2 linked regions of the Homo sapiens genome follow. The protein of the gene in region 1 binds, or shares a complex with, the protein of each later gene. Each region holds a gene or a part of one and is shown on either strand. Other genes may lie near its edges.

Region 1 (8,282 bases):
AAATAATTTATAGGGAACCGATACTATGAAATACTATGTTATTATTAAAAAGAATGAAGTACAATGTATCTGTTATTGTTATTGAATGACTTCTAAGTCATATTGTTAAATCAGAAAAGTAAACCACAGAGCATTATTATATGACCCGATTTATGTTTTTCTTTTTTTAACAGACAGGATCTTACTATGTTGTCCATGCTGGACTTGAACTCTTAGGCTCAAGCGATCCTCCCACCTCAGCCTATCAAGTAACTGGGACTACAGGTGTGCGCCACCATGCCCAGCTTCATTTATGTATTTTTTCAAGTATATTCAATATATTCAGGTTGGTCCTAAAGTGAGAAATGTAGGTAATACTTTTTTATCATGTTTTATATAATAGCAATAAACTATATATTCACCTATGTTTCCAGGCTTGGTGACCATATTGAGCACACTGAAAAAGACCTAAAAAGACAGACATTTACAGTGGTTATCTCAAAGGTGGGGAGAAGGAGTAGAGAAGAGGTGGAGGGGAATTTAATTTATTTTCCTATATGTTACTGTGTTTTAAAATATTTACAGCTCTTAGTTTTGAAAAATTACTATATTCCATGAATGCTTTACATTATTTACCTAAGGTCACAAGTTTATAAGGGGCAGGGCTGGGAGGTAGGCTGTCTGACTTCAGATAGTGCTCTTAACACAGTGTTCTCTCACCCATTGCTTGAGTATAAAACAAACACAAACTAAAATAAAATTGAAATATACCTCCTCATGCTTTACCCCTGGCCAACTGCAAATTCCTTCCTTTATGCTCCAGCACTCCCTGAACATATTTGCCATGAATGCTATCCTCTCCCCTGCTGAGCACATAAAATGTGCAAGGAAATAGATTAAAACTAGTTGTAAGCCTTTTCTCTTGGTGTAGAAACAGAGTCATAGACGAGTACTGGGTGAATGAATGAAGTATGGAGTCATAAAGTCAATCCCTCCTCCAAACTCCAGGTAGCACTGATAGCTATCTCTAGTTCTGTTGATGTTTTTTGTTCTTATAGAAAAACAGCAAGAAGACACCATTTCTCCCCTGCTGTCATGCTTTACTGCATCTCAGAATGACAGTCAGTGCTTCCCAAGGTCTCACACAGAAGACGCAAGCAGCCTGCACACATAATTTGGTTAAACTGCACGCACATTAAAAAAAATGTTTTGAATCAGTTGCTATCTTTAAAAATATATGAAGCTTGTTTTCCGTAAAAATTTACAGTTTCCCCCAAAACTAAGATCAGGCAACCATGTGCTGGAGCCCCACCGCACCTGCAGCTGCCCCCTTACTGGAGACAGGCTTAGCAGCACACAGCTCCCACCCAGCCCTCCTGTCCACCCGCCTCCTGCACTCAGGCTTCCTGACTGGTCCCTGCTGGCAGTGGAGTTTACACCACAGAACTGTACCTCCTCTTGCTGACATTTAGGTCAGTTCCAGTTCAGCCCATTCTGTCTTCCTCGGAACCCAAACAGAGAGCTCGCAGCCCTCTGACCACACAGTGCTCCTTCACCTCTCAGAGGACGCACAGTGCACCAGGCTGCAACACAAAGAGAACGGTTCGGATATCGTTGCGGCCTTGGATTAGTTCCAAAATGTCAAGCGGGCCTCTTAATGAGGGGTCTCTATTCTTGATGTTATGGCAGTGGAGCTACAGGGCAGGGAGAAGCCCTGAGTTAAAGAACTCACCTGTGTGCCATCAGGAAACCACGTGAAAAGCACTACCAAGGCAAAAGATCTGAGTTCAATCTGGGCTGCTTACCTAGCTGGGCAAGAATGCTTCATCTCTCCTGAGCCTCAGTTTCCTCACCTATCAAATGGGCTAGTAGAGCTTCACAAGGTTGTTGTGTGAATGAAAAAGTGTACATGAAAGTGCTTGTAAGCACCTGACAAGTATAAAATAAGACGGGTGTGGAGGAGGACCGGAAGAGAGGTGCTCTGAAAGAAGTAACAGAAATGGGTGCCATGCATTCCAGTTACAGTTGAAGAGCCTCTGTCTCTATGACCTGAGGTCCCTCCCACCTCCTCTTTCTGCCCTGAGGGCCTGAAAAATGCCTCTCTTCACTTGCTCCCAGTGGCTGCAGTAAAATAGATTATAAGGGAAAACCGCCTATTCCCCGAAGCAGTAGCTCTCCAGAACTCATCTGGAGGTCCAGGTCACTAGGGGAGAAGAAGCCAGGCTGAATCCACGCCTGGCTCCACGGAGGAGCCACAAGGATGGCCATCCTCCCCCAGCCCCTAGGACGCTGAGACAGGCTCACCGGAGGTTATCGGTGTCTCCATTGGACAATCAAGGAACTGAGGTTCTTTCCCTCCAAAACCACACACCTCCTCACGGCTTCACCGGGAGGTGGATCAAATGACCTGCTCTATGAAAGCACTTTGCAAAAGGGATGAAAGTACAATAACAAGCAAAAATAGCCTCCAAGATGTGATATAAAGCGATGCCAATGCGCAGCTATGTGGTTACTGGTGAGCAGACCTCCGGGAAGCACAGGACACACCCCACTTACCCAACAGACGTTCTCATCCCATATGCCTTTGTCCAAAGGTTGCACGGGGGTTAAGCTTGGCCCAGAAGGCGCCGAGGGCTGGTCGAGTTCTCCCCTTTCCAAGAACCAGCCGAATCTCCCTCCCGCAGATCTGAGGGGCAGAGCCGCCCATCCGGCGGCGCCGGGCCACTTCTGGGCGCGCCACCCGCCGCCCGCCCAGGCTCGGGGAGACAGCGCCCTGAGTCCCGGCTGGGAGAAGGCTGCTCACCTGGTCCTCACGGATTCCAGCCGAGGGGCGTGACCGCTTCTCCCCACACCCTTTGCCCTGAGCGGGACGTGGAGTCTCTTGGCCCCAGGGGGCGCGGCCCGCATCGGCAGAGTCCCGGGCACGCACCTACGCCCTCCCATCCAGCGGACTGTTTAGGGGCTTCGGGCGGCGCCGGAGAAACGGGGCGGGCTGCACCCAGCAGAATGGGGTGGGCCTCTCAGAAGCCCCAGGCCGCAGGGGAGGGGCGCGCCCCCAACATCTTCCCACAAAGAGCTCCAGCTCTCCAAAGCAAGGCGCAGTGCGGGCGGAGGACAGCCCTGACCTCCGAGAGGGGCGCGGGGAGAAAGGGAGCGCCGTGGGGGCGGGGACCCTTCCCGGCCCGCGCCCTGAGCCCTCAGCCTCGCACAATGAGTTTAGCCTGGCTCCATCCGGACCGCCCTCTCCGCCCGGGCCCGCGCCCGCGCCCCACGCCGGGTGCTCACCGAGGAGCGGCCGCCGCGGCAGCTCAGGCCCCGGCCCAGCCGCCTCCCCGCCTCGGCCACCGCCGCCGCCGCTTCCTTCCTCCCCGCCGCGCTCCGGGACTGGAGGTTTCGGGTTTCAGCCCACCGAGCCCCGCTTCGCTCCTCCCGCGGGCCAGCCACCAGCACGCGGACCCGGGCGGGCGCAGGCCAAGTAACTTTGCGGCGCCCGCGCCCCGCCCCGCCCCCCCCACGCCCGGCCGGGCCCCTCCGGCCCCCGGAGCCCCGAGCCGCCTCCCCGCGCCCCGCACTGCCCCGCCCCGCCCAGCTCCCGGCGCCCCTCCCCACCCGCGCCCCTTCCTTCGCGTCCGTCCGCCCGCCCTCCCGGCTGCTTCTTTCCCATTTCTTCCCACGAACAGCCTCGGCTGCTGCTCTTTGTCTCGCCCTTACCCTCTCGGCTCGCCCCACTTTTCTCCTGAAAACCTTTGTGGTGCCTAACTCAGGCCTTCCCTGTTCCCGTTCCTCCGCCCCAGTTCCAGCCGCTGGGACGTCGCCTTTTCCATGTCTCTCTCCATCACACAGACACTTTCAGATTCTTCCCGCAGGCTCCGCACAGTCCCATTCTCCTCCTCCAGTCCCGCCGTGGACGATCCTGGTATCGCCTTTGCTGCTCACCTTTCATTCATCCAGCCGACGGGCACGAGCATCCATCTGCCTTCTGCCAGGCTCTGTCCCGGGCTCTGTTAATACCACAGTGAATTCGTCCCGAAGCCAGCCCCGGGGAGTGGGGAGTGGACGTAAACAGGTCTTCACACTGCTGCCCTGCACTCCCTCGGAACCAAAAGGCCAGGGAGCAGTCATCACAAAACAAAGAGCGGGCGCTGTCAGCTCGGGGGACGGAACAGTTCCTTCTCAGAATGTTTGTTTTCCCTTCCTCACTCCCCACTTTGCCTGCCTGTCTCCAGACTCCTACGTTTTCTATGCAGCAGTCTTAATAAGGGGATGAAAAGTTGAAGCACAGAGTAGAACTGCTAAAAAGGGAAAGAAGGAAGGACAAACAGGGCAGCAAAATAATCAGGTAAGAAGTTACAAAGCCCAGTTCACTAAACTCCAGAAAAAAAAAAACAAACCCTGATGCTGTGCTTAGAGCAGGATTCACATTCCTCTGAAATCCATCTGCTTTGATAAATACATTAATTATTCCCTTGTCTACAGATTGACACTGTGGGAGATGCTTCCTTAATATTATTGGGCCACTGAGGCACAATTTAGAACAGTAATTTACTGTCTGGCACCTGCCAAACACCCACATTGCTCTGGGGACAAATGGGATAATGGGGAGAAAAAAGTAAATGGGTGCCTTAATATTCCTATGGGATAAATGCTTTATTTGGTCAAAAACTGGAAGCTGACGCTCCACTTAAGAGTCTAGGTCACGCGGCAAGCCAGACACTTGAAGGAGCTTAAAGCTTTCTGTTCTTAATAGTATTTTAGACACTTATTTTGAAATCCCTGATATTTATTTAATTTACACTGACTCAGATGTCGGCTAAGCTCTATGAGCCTGAGGGAGTGAGTTAACCTTCCTCTCAGCTTATTCATATATAAAATGGGGATACTCATACTTTCCTATCTGTAGAGTTGAAAAGGTTAAATGAGGTCATGTAAGTAAATCATCCAGTGACATAGAATCTGAGAACTAAACCCTTTTGAAAATTGGTATTCACGAAAGGTCTGAAAATATATGCCACAGACTGGCATGGTGAGAATGAGAATAAAAAATAAACAGTTACGGCTGTTGTGGCTCCATACCCATCCATGATGCGAAAGATGTCCTTCATACTGAGCAACCTTTTCCCATACTTACTCTATTTCATTTTGAACTCTTCAACAGAAAACACTTTTTTTCTCCTGCTGCTCATTATCAAATGCATTATTTATCACAAAGATTTTTCTTTTTTCTGAGCTCATAAGCTCAGAACTTACTGTGCATTCAGGGATGGAAATTGCTGCCAACAAATGCATTTTCAATTGCTCTCTTAAGATTTTTTTCCCTTCTGGAGCTAATATTGAGCTATGAGCAGAATTCAATCAGATGCAGAGAAAACAGACAAATTATTATTAAAGTAATTATTTCACCGTATATCATTGTATAGGTGACAATTGTGAAAAACGTGACTGATTTTGTGCAAGAATGTATTTATATTTTTTTAGAAAAAGAGAAAGATACACACTAATTCTCCTTTCCCAAATTAGTTTAATAAACCATTCTGTTTTAGAGACATCCACAAAGACTTATAAAGTAAGATAATGAGAGGCCTTGTCCAACTGAACCTCACATGTGTGTTGAATAATTTATATATAAAACATATTTTATGTAAAATATCATTTCAGTCTAGCAGTCCACATAAAACTGGTGAAAGCAAAACTGTGAAATATGCTATTTGTTCCACATGGAATGTTATTTCCTCCACTCTTTACAGGCCAAGCCCTTCCTGCCCTTCACATCTCACCTTAAATGTCACTTCCTTAGAGAAGTCTTCCCTGATGGGATCTTGCTATGTTGCCCAGGCTTGTCTTTAACTCCTGGGCTCAAGCTATCCTCTCACCTTGGCCTCCCAAAGTGCTGGAATTACAGATGTGAGCCACTGCACTCAGCCCCTGACCAATCTAAAAGAAATTCTCTAATCTATGTACTCTTTCACAGCTCTGTTGTTTTTCTACATAAAATGTGTCCAAATTTATAAAATATGCATCAATTTTTCTATTTATTTGTTTACAGTATGCCTCCACTGATAGAATGGTAAAACCATTTGACCTCAGATGGAAACTTCCCTGAAACTGATGTGCCTCTGGACTGATCAGAAACAAGAGCCAATCAATATACATATATTTTTATTGAATCAGTATGGGTTTATTTCTGTTACTTGGAACAGAAAGCATCTCACTCAGTGATTCTTAATACGACATTTTGAAAGGCATTTTGGGTTTGTCACAATGATTAGAGGACACCCCAGGCATTTATTGGGTGCGGCCCAGGATACCAGACATCTTGCAGTACATGAAATAGTCCTACACAAAAAGAACAGTTCCTTTCACACATGACAGTAAAAACTGTCTATACTTTTCTAAGTCTGAAACCAAACTATTTTACATATATCCATGAGGGGTTTTTTTGCATGGTTTTGTTGTACAGCAATTTGTCTAGGAATGCAAGTACTATGTGAATTGAAGGAAGATTGCACCTTGATTTACTCAAACCTCACCAAGAGTTGTTCAGTATTTTGGAAATCACCTCACTATTAACAATGCCACTCATGGTATCAGATTTACTAGTACAAGTTAGGTGACTTGGTCTACATTTATATATCTGTGTCATACTTGCAGTGATCCTGTCTATAACTTCAAGTGTCTGACCACTTCATGATGTCATCCACTAGGGCTGATATATTGAAATGAGCATTATTGGGCTGGATGCGGTGGCTCACTCCTGTAACCCAAGCACTTTGGGAGGCCAAGGCGGGTGGATCACTTGAGGTCAGGAGTTCAAGACCAGCCTGGCCAACATGGCAAAACCGTGTCTCTACTAAAAATACAAATATTAGCCGAGCATGGTGGCACATACTTGTAGTCCTAGCTACATGGGAGGCTGAGGCACAAGAATTGCTTGAACCGGGGAGGTGGAGGTTGCAGTGAGCTGAGATCGTACCACTGCCTTGTCCTACACATCTCTTCCATCTGGCTTCTCTTGAATTGCATCCTTTGTCATAAACCAGTAATCAAAGTAAGTAAAGTGCTTTCTTGAGCTCTGTGAGCTGTTATAGGAAATTATTAGCCATGGGAACTCCTGATCTGAAGCCAAGTCGGTCAGAAGTACTGGAGGCCCTGGACATTCATGTGGTGCCTGAAGTGGGGACAGTGTATGGGACTGAGCCCTTAATCTGTGGAGTCTGAACTATCTCAGGCAGTTAGTGTCGGAATTGAATTGAATTGTTGGATACCCAATTGGTGTCAGAGAATTGATTGATGTTGGAAAAAATTCCACATATTTTGTATCGGGGGAAAAAAGTATCCTCAAGTACATTTATCTTTTGATCTATTAAAAAAATCCTCAAGTACACATTTATCTTCTGTTGCCAATAAAAAGCAACATTATATATTTGGGATACATTTGTAATTACAGAAGATTAAAAATGCCCAAATGTCTGTCAGTAGGGGATTAGAGGAATAAGTTAGGATTCAGTGCTACAAATGAATGAAGAAAATCTCTATACACTAACATGTAGTGGCCTCAAAGACGTATTGTTAAGTGGAAAAAAGCAAGGTGCAGGAATATTTGCTATACATTATCTTTTTTTTTTTTTTGAGACATGGTCTCACTTTGTTGCCCAGACTGGAGTACAGTGACGCGATCTCAGATCACTGCAACCTCTGTCTCCCAGACTCAAGCGATTCCCCTGCCTCAGTCACCCGAGTCGCTGGGATTACAGGCGCGCCCCACTACCACCAGGCTAATTTTTTATTTTTAGTAGAGACGGGGTTTCACCATGTTGGCCAGGCTGGTCTTGAACTCCTGACTTCAAATGATCCACCCTCCTTGGCCTCCCAAAGTGCTGGGATTACAGGTGTGAGCCACCACGCCCAGCCTATGTTATCTTTTATGTGAGAAAAGGAAAGAAAATAAATATATAGGTATTTGCTTATACTTAAAAGTGGAAAAACAAACCAAAAACAATAAAAAGAAGGTTTCCAATAAGGGAAAGGAACAAACAGAAGGAATGAAAAAGAAAGCAAGGTTTCTAGGAAGGTTCCTTGCTGTATGGCTTTGAAACTAAGTACATATTTTACAAATTTGAGAAAAGTTAACTCAAAAAAGAAAAAACCTCCAAAAACTGAAGAAAAACTAGGATGAATATCAAGTTGGTGGCATATGAACTTTTATTAGTTTTCTGTCACTGCATAATGATTACCACAAATTTAGCAGCTTAAAACACTCTATTATGTTGTCTGGGCTGGTCTTGAACTCCTGGCCTCAAGCAATC
Region 2 (7,584 bases), on another chromosome or scaffold:
ATTCTAACACTCAGCACTGCTGTGCTTAACTATTCTTGAATTAGATAATCTCTAACTAATATGTAAAGTATAGCATTTATAGATTATGATGCTCCTTCCTTAGATACTAATCTCATTAAAAAAAGCATTTAAGGGCCTGACACGGTGGCTCACGCCCGTAATCCCAGCACCTTGGGAGGCCAAGGAGGGCGGATAACCTGAAGTCAGGAGTTCGAGACCAGCCTGGCCAACATGTCGAAACTGGGGCTCTGTTAAAAATACAAAAATTAGGCCGGGCGTGGTGGCTCATACCTGTAATCCCAGCACTTTGGGAGGCCGAGGCGGGCAGATCACGAGGTCAGGAGATCGAGACCATCCTGGCTAACGAGGTGAAACCCCGTCTGTACTAAAAATACAAAAAATTAGCCGGGTGCGGTGGTGGGTGCCTGTAGTCCCAGCTACTCAGGAGGCTGAGGCAGGAGAATGGCGTGAACCTGGGAGGCAGAGCTTGCAGTGAGCTGAGATCGCACCACTGCAGCAGTCCGGCCTGGGCAAAAGAGCGAGACTCTGTCAAAAAAAAATAATAATAATAAAAAAATTAGCCGGGTGTGGTGGCTCATGCCTGTAATCCCAGCACTTTGGGAGGCTGGGGTGGGTGGATCACCTGAGGTCAGGAGTTCAAGATCAGCCTGACCAACATAGTGAAACCCCGTCTCTACTAAAAATGCAAAAATTAGCCGGGTGTTATGGCGCACACCTTTAATCCCAGCTACTCGGGAGGCTGAGGCAGGAGAATCACCTGAACCCGGGAGGCAGAGGTTGCAGTGAGCCAAGATTGCGCCATTGCACTCCAGCCTGGGCAACAAGAGTGAAACTCTGTCTCGGAAGAAAATACAAAAATACAAAAATTAGCCAGGTGTGGTGACACATGCCTATAATCCTAGCTACTAGGGAGGCTGAGGCAGGAGAATCACTTGAACCTGGGAGGCGGAAGTTGCAGTGAGCCAAGATCATGCCATTGCACTCCAGCCTGGGAGACAAGAGTGAAACTCCATCTCAAAAAAAAAAAAGCACTTAAGCATCCCAAATTTACATGTGTCTTTTGGGGTGGGCTCTTCATCAAGTGCGTTACTGAAGCAACCAGTGGTGCGCGGCGCACCTGCAGGCTGTTCTGTGACTGAATAGTCCTATCACTGAATGAATGTTTTTGTGGAACTGAGTAGCTGCTGGGTGTGTACTTTCTTGTAACTCCACAGTGAGGATGTCTAACTGAGGTGCTTTCCTTTTTCTCCCCACCAAGATGTCACAGCTATCATTTACGTCGCAGCCTGCAGTAGCTACAACATGGTGATTCGAGAAGATAACAACACCAACAGGCTGAGAGAGTCCCTGGATCTTTTTGAAAGCATCTGGAACAACAGGTGACAAAAATAGCAAATTCAGTCTTACCATTGGATTGCAAATTTTCTTTTGTTAAAAATACGCTCAGGCCAGGCGTTGTGGCTCACACCTGTAATCTCAACACTGGGAGGCCGAGGCAGGTGTGTCACTTGAGCTCAGCAGTTGGAGACTAGCCTGGGCAACATGGAGAAACCCTGTCTCTACAAAAAATACAAAAATTAGCCAGGTGTGGTGGTGCACACCTGCCCAGTGACTCAGGAGCTTGAGGTAGGGGGATCACTTGAGCCCAGGAGGTAAGGGTTGCAATGAGCTGAGATCACACTACTGCACTCCTGCCTGGGCAACAGAGCAAGACCTTGTCTCAAAACACACACACATACCTACACCCACACCCACACACCCACACACTCTCTTTACTGATAAATCCAGAACCGTACGAAGTATCTCTTTTAGTTCATCTATTGTATAGATATACTTAAAATGTGGAATATTTTTTTTTATTATTTTTTTTTTATTTTGAGATAGAGTCTCGCTGTGTCACCCAGGCTGGAGTGCAGTGGCGCCATCTCGGCCCACTGCAAGCTCCACCTCCCGGGTTCATGCCATTCTCCTTCCTCAGCCTCCTGAGTAGCTGGGACTACAGGCGCCCTCCACCACACCCAGCTAATATTTTGTATTTTTAGTAGAGACCGGGTTTCACCATGTTAGCCAGGATGGTCTTGATCTCCTGACCTCGTGATCCACCCACCTCGGCCTCCCAAAGTGCTGGGATTACAGGCGTGAGCCACCGCACCCGGCCAATGTGGAGTATTCTTTGATGAAGTTCTGATAGTTCTTTGTCAAGAAAATTTAAGTCTCTGTTTTGAAAGGCTAAGATTATATTCGGCCTTCCATATCTTCAGGTTCCACATCTGCGGATTCAACCAACCACAGATTGAAAATATTCAAAAATAAATTTAAGATAGCAGTACAACAACAAAAAATAATACAAGATTACAGTGGCATACGCCTATAATCCCAGCACTTTGGGAGGCTGAGACGGGGGAATTGCTTGAGCTCAGGAATTGGAGACCAGTCTGGGCAACATGTTGAAACCCTGTCTCTACAAAAAATACAAAAATTAGGCATGGTGGGGCGCGCTTGTAGTCCCAGCTACTTGGGAAGCTGAGGCAGGAGGATCACTTGAGCCCAGGAGGCGGAGGTTACAGTAAGCTGCGATTGCATCACTGCACGTCAGTCTGGGCGACAGAGGGAGACTGTGTCTCAAAAAACGTAATTAATTAAAATAAAAAATTGAGCAAATAAAAAAATTGACTAAAAATAATACAAATAAACAATACAGTATAACAACTACTTACCTAGCTTTTACATCGTGTTAGGTATTTTAGGTAATTGGAGATGATTTAAGCATACGGGAGGATGTGCATGGTTTATATGCAAATACTACACCATTTCATATAAGGGAGCCTCCTCAAATTTTGGTTTTCACAGGGAGTCCTAGACCAATCCCCCACGGGTATCAAGGGATGACTCTATATCTAGGGTTCAAAATAGGTTTTGTTTGGTTTTTAAATTTTAGGAAGTACCAGTTTAGGGGCCGGGAACAGTGGCTCATGCCTGTAATCCCAGCACTTTGGGAGGCCAAGGCAGGAAGATCACCTGAGATCAGGAGTTCGAGACCAACCTGGCCAATATGGCGAAACCCCGTCTCTACTAAAACTACAAAAATTAGCCAGGAGTGGTGGTGGGCGCCTGTAATCCCAGCTACTCGGGAGGCTGAGGCAGGAGAATCGCTTGAACCCGGGAGGTGGAGGTTGCAGCGAGCTGAGATCGCACCACTGAACTCCAGCCTGGGCAACAGAGTGAGACTCTGTCTCAAAAAGTAAAAAAAAAAATTTTTTTAATTTTGAAAATAAATAAAGTACCAGTTTAGGACATCCACTAATAACTAGATGATCTCTAAGATCCCTTACAGCTCACAATCACCACATAATCATGTTTGAAACTACTAGCATTGCAGATTGGCAGAAGTGATTATTTCAGAAAGGAATATTTAGCGCGCACACACACAATACATACATATATAGTTAGAAATCAAAGTTTCTTCTGAAATATTTTGGAAGAAATATTACCAAGGAGGAGAGGAAACATAAGTTTACCTTATAAAAGTTTTGGATTATCAGAAAAGTGTTTTTGTATGAAATGTTCAACAACCATCCTCAAATTTGTGGTAATAAGACTGTTAATAGGAAAGAAACAGGGTCAGGAAATACCAGGTATACAGAAGGATACTATAGAGTTATTATGAATTTATTTATAAACACTATATGTGTAAGTGGGAAAATGACCACAATCTTCTTATAGGAAAAAGCTGATTTTAAAACACTATGATCTCGTTTTTAAGTATGTGTGAGGACAGAAAAAAACTTGGGCATGAAAACATAAAATTTCTGTAGTAATTGTTTCTGGGTATAATTACATTTGATTTTTTTCTGTATGTTTTTCTATAAGATTTGTTTTTACAAAGGTTATATATTTTATTACTAGAAGAAGCAGGTAAGCTATTTCCATTTGACGGGAAAGTGGATTGTGTGTGTGGGTTTTTCTTTCTTTTTTTTTTTTTTTGAGACAGAGTCTCGCTCTGTCCCCCAGGCTGGAGTGCAGTGGTGCAATCTCAGCTCACCACAACCTCCACCTCCCCAGTTCAAGCGATTCTCCTGCCTCAGCCTCCCGAGTAGCTGGGACTGCAGGCACGTGCCACCACGCCCAGCTACTTTTTGTATTTTTAGTAGAGACAGGGTTTCACAGTGTTGGTCAGGCTGGTCTCGAACTCCTGACCTCGTGATCTGCCCACCTCTGCCCCACAAAGTGCTGGGATTACAGGCGTGAGCCACCACACGTGGCCAAATTGTGTTATTAATTGATAGTAAGATTCCTGTAGACTAATCAGTTAGCTTGATTCCTTTGAAGTGATGGAGGCGGAAGAAGAACCAAGCCAGCTGCATGTTAAGCTCTGTGTTATTAGCTAATGAGTCATATATTACTTTGTTGTTGTTAACACTTTCACTTCTAATGTGAGTTTTCCGACCTTTTATTGGTAAATTACACCACAGAAATTCAAGTGAACTCATTACATAAGTAAATCTTAGCTTTGGTTCCAATAAATCTATATCCCCCATGGGACTGAATTAGAAAGTGCTTAACTACAGATTGAGTATCCCTTATCCGAAATGCTTGGGACCAAAAGTGTTTAAGATTTCTTGTTGTTGTTGTTTTTTGGAATAGTTGCATTATACTTACTAGTCCAGCATCCCTAATATGAAAATGCAAAGTGTCAAATGCTCCGACAAGCATTTCCTTCGAGCATCATGTCAGTGCTGAAAAAGTTTTGGATTTTGAAGCATTTTGGATTTTGTGTTTTTGGATTAGGGATGCTCAACCTGTACCTATATTTGTTTATCATTCTTTACAGATGGAATGAGGATACTGGTGTACTGAACTTTCTTGAATCCTATACATTTTTAGGAAGACGATGGTATTCTTTTAATTTAGCAACTTCTATGTTAGAGGCACTTTCATGTACTAGTGTATGTGAAATTTGTATGTTTATTTTTCCTTTTTTAGGTGGTTACGGACCATTTCTATCATCTTGTTCTTGAACAAACAAGATATGCTGGCAGAAAAAGTCTTGGCAGGGAAATCAAAAATTGAAGACTATTTCCCAGAATATGCAAATTATACTGTTCCTGAAGACGGTAAGATTTCAAAACACATTCTTATGATTGAGGAATAGAATTGTTTTATTAATAGTCCTGTAACTCTAATTCACATACCTCTGATGAATCAAAGAAATTCACTTTATTTAAATCAATTTTCTTTCTACTGCCCATATCCTAAAGTATTAGAGTGTTACAAGGTCCTATTTGTAATCGGATCCCATTTGTAAATGTTTCCGAGTTTGACTTTCCATTGAAACCGTGCAGCAGAAGAAAGAGCCATTTTGGGATGTGACTGTGTCATGCTGGTATGAGCTCTCCCTCTAGTGCCTTTGGCTGGGTGTGACATGACAGGTGCCTTGTTAGTCCTTGATACAGACCTTCTCACTTCACCCTCAGATGACCCTGCATGGTAGTTTCTATTATTTTTTCCCGTGGAAAGAGAGTCTGAGAGAGGAGAGATAGCGTGTTCAAAGCCACACGGGTAGAGTCATGCAGGCAAGGCAGTCCTTGCACCCTTTGTCCCCAAGCCCATGCTGGCAGCAGCCGCGCTTATCTGCTCCTGTCTCTAGCCTTGCTGTGGCTGCAGCCTTGGGGATTTCCAGCAGGGCCAGCAGCCATCCCAGGCCACCTGAGACTGAGGGGTTTCCGGGGCACGGGACCGTCAGTGCTAAAGCTGGGAAGGTAGACCAGGAAGAGTTGGTCACTCCGTTTCCAGTCGCTTACACTTCAGTTTCCAGTGAACACCAGGTCTACCAGAGGCTCATAGGAGTGATTTAAGGTGAAATAACACCGCTTCTTACATCTTGAATTCCAAACTAGAAAACGCAGAATAAAAGACACTTTCCTGGAAAATATAGTTAAGATTTGGAAAATTTATTTTTTATCCTCAATGAAGAGGGAAAAGAAAACTTGCATTTGTCATTAAACTTTTTTGCTCCTTATGTTCAATGTTCTTTTCTCCCTCATGGGAGAGGCATTATATAAGTATATTCATAGTAAAATCCTGACCCTTGTGGGGCCTTCCAACAAAATCCTACTGCTATCACCTGTGTCATAAAGACCCGAAAAAAATTCCTACTGCTACATATTTCCTTATAGGAATAAATAATAGACATTGGAAATGGGCCTGAGCACCAGCTCTGCCTGTGGTCTCACCAGACCCAGCTGCTTTCATGAGCCACCAGCAGTCTCCGCACCCGCCAGAGGGTCACTCAGCGTGAGGTCAAGGTCCAGGCTCTTCCTGAGACCAAATCAAGTGGAAATCTCATTGCAGTTCATCACTGCCTTGCTCTACCCGCAGCCTGATGATGTGCTTTCCAGGACTGAGGCCGGGTGCCGCTTGCCCATGGCACATCATCAGAGCATGGCTTCTGCTGCGCTTTCTGTGGCTGGCATTGCCAGTTTCCCAGCAAGCTGGGTCTTTAATTCTCCCGCTAACCGCCTCTTGCCACCTCCTGTCACTCAGCTCAGGCAGTGGCTCGGCGGCCGGGGGGTCCTTCCAACAGGGTCTGCCTCCCCAGGCCCTTCCCTCTTTCCCTCCTCATGGCTGTGGTCCAGGCCCTCACTCCTCTCGTCTCAGCAGCTGCCACAGCTTCCTGCCTGACCTCCTGTAGCTGGTCACTCACCTTTCCAGAACATTCTGTGAACTACCAAAGTCACCCTTCTGAGACACAACCTTACCTGCTTAGGAGCACCAAGGAGAAGCACCACCACTGGCTGACAGCCAAGGCCACCTGCCCAGCCGCGGGTGCTGAAGGGCTTCCGTCCAGGGGCTGAGGGGACCCTGGCTTGCTGCCTCGGTGCCAGGCCCAGTGACTGCTCTTCACCCAGCAGCATGCGTCATCTCCATCTGTGCCCTGCCTCTCCCAAGAGACTCACCCATCCCTGAGCATCTGCAGCACCTGCTGGAAGCCTGGGACCACCATCAACTCCAACGTCAACTCTCACTTAGCAATTAAAAGGAACTAACAGTTGGTCCATGTGACGGCATGGGTTAAACTCACAGTAATTGTGCTGACAGAAAGAATCAAAGCAAAAACTACACACCATGTGAATGCATTTGTGTAAATGTCTAAAAAGTAAATTAGCTGGGCGTGGTGGTGTGCGCCTGTAGTCCCAGCTACTCGGGAGGCTGAGGCAGGAGAATCACTTGAACCCAGGAGGCGGAGGTTGCAGTGAGCCAAGATCGTGCCACTGCACTCCAGCCTGGGCGACAGAACAAGGCTCCGTCTCAAAAAAACAAAAAAAAAGCACTCCAGCCTGGGTGACGGAGTGAGACTTAGTCTCAAGAAAAAAAAAAAGAACTCCTCAGATGGTACACGGACACTCTGGGCATTCCAGAGTATGTCAGTGACCCCCACCCCCGCCAAGATAAATGACATGGGCGCTCCCCAGCCACTCCAGAACACAGCCCAGGCAGAGACCCACAGCGGTTGCTGCACCCTTCCCTCCCTCACTGGATGCTGCACCCACCCACCCCCCACAG

The links. The genes of interacting proteins can lie anywhere in the genome.
Region 2: the proteins of GPR161 (region 1) and GNAL are in contact, whole or in part, in a cryo-EM structure (PDB 8KH4), measured with the Homo sapiens proteins. Residues at the interface, in NP_001254539.1 of Homo sapiens: Arg125, Ala128, Val129, Leu130, Pro132, Met133, Tyr135, Pro136, Met137, Ile139, Ile211, Val214, Ala215, Lys218, Ala219, Lys267, Ala268, Thr271, Trp327, Asn328, Lys329, Arg332; in NP_001135811.1 of Homo sapiens: Ala41, His43, Lys203, Val204, Phe206, Phe363, Cys366, Arg367, Asp368, Ile370, Gln371, Arg372, His374, Leu375, Gln377, Tyr378, Glu379, Leu380, Leu381.

Annotation. Positions count from the first base shown.
Region 1 is NC_000001.11:168,133,475-168,141,756, forward strand, and holds the start of GPR161 (G-protein coupled receptor 161), read right to left. Parts: upstream 3,457-8,282; 5' UTR 3,265-3,456; exon of another isoform or gene 2,923-3,264; coding exon of another isoform or gene 2,783-2,922; exon of another isoform or gene 2,536-2,782; intron 1,563-2,535; exon of another isoform or gene 1,448-1,562; coding exon of another isoform or gene 1,432-1,447; intron 448-1,431; exon of another isoform or gene 402-447; intron 1-401. UniProt on the Homo sapiens protein: Key negative regulator of Shh signaling, which promotes the processing of GLI3 into GLI3R during neural tube development.
Region 2 is NC_000018.10:11,867,264-11,874,847, forward strand, and holds part of GNAL (guanine nucleotide-binding protein G(olf) subunit alpha), read left to right. Parts: intron 1-1,279; coding exon 1,280-1,400; intron 1,401-5,004; coding exon 5,005-5,135; intron 5,136-7,584. UniProt on the Homo sapiens protein: Guanine nucleotide-binding protein (G protein) involved as transducer in olfactory signal transduction controlled by G protein-coupled receptors (GPCRs).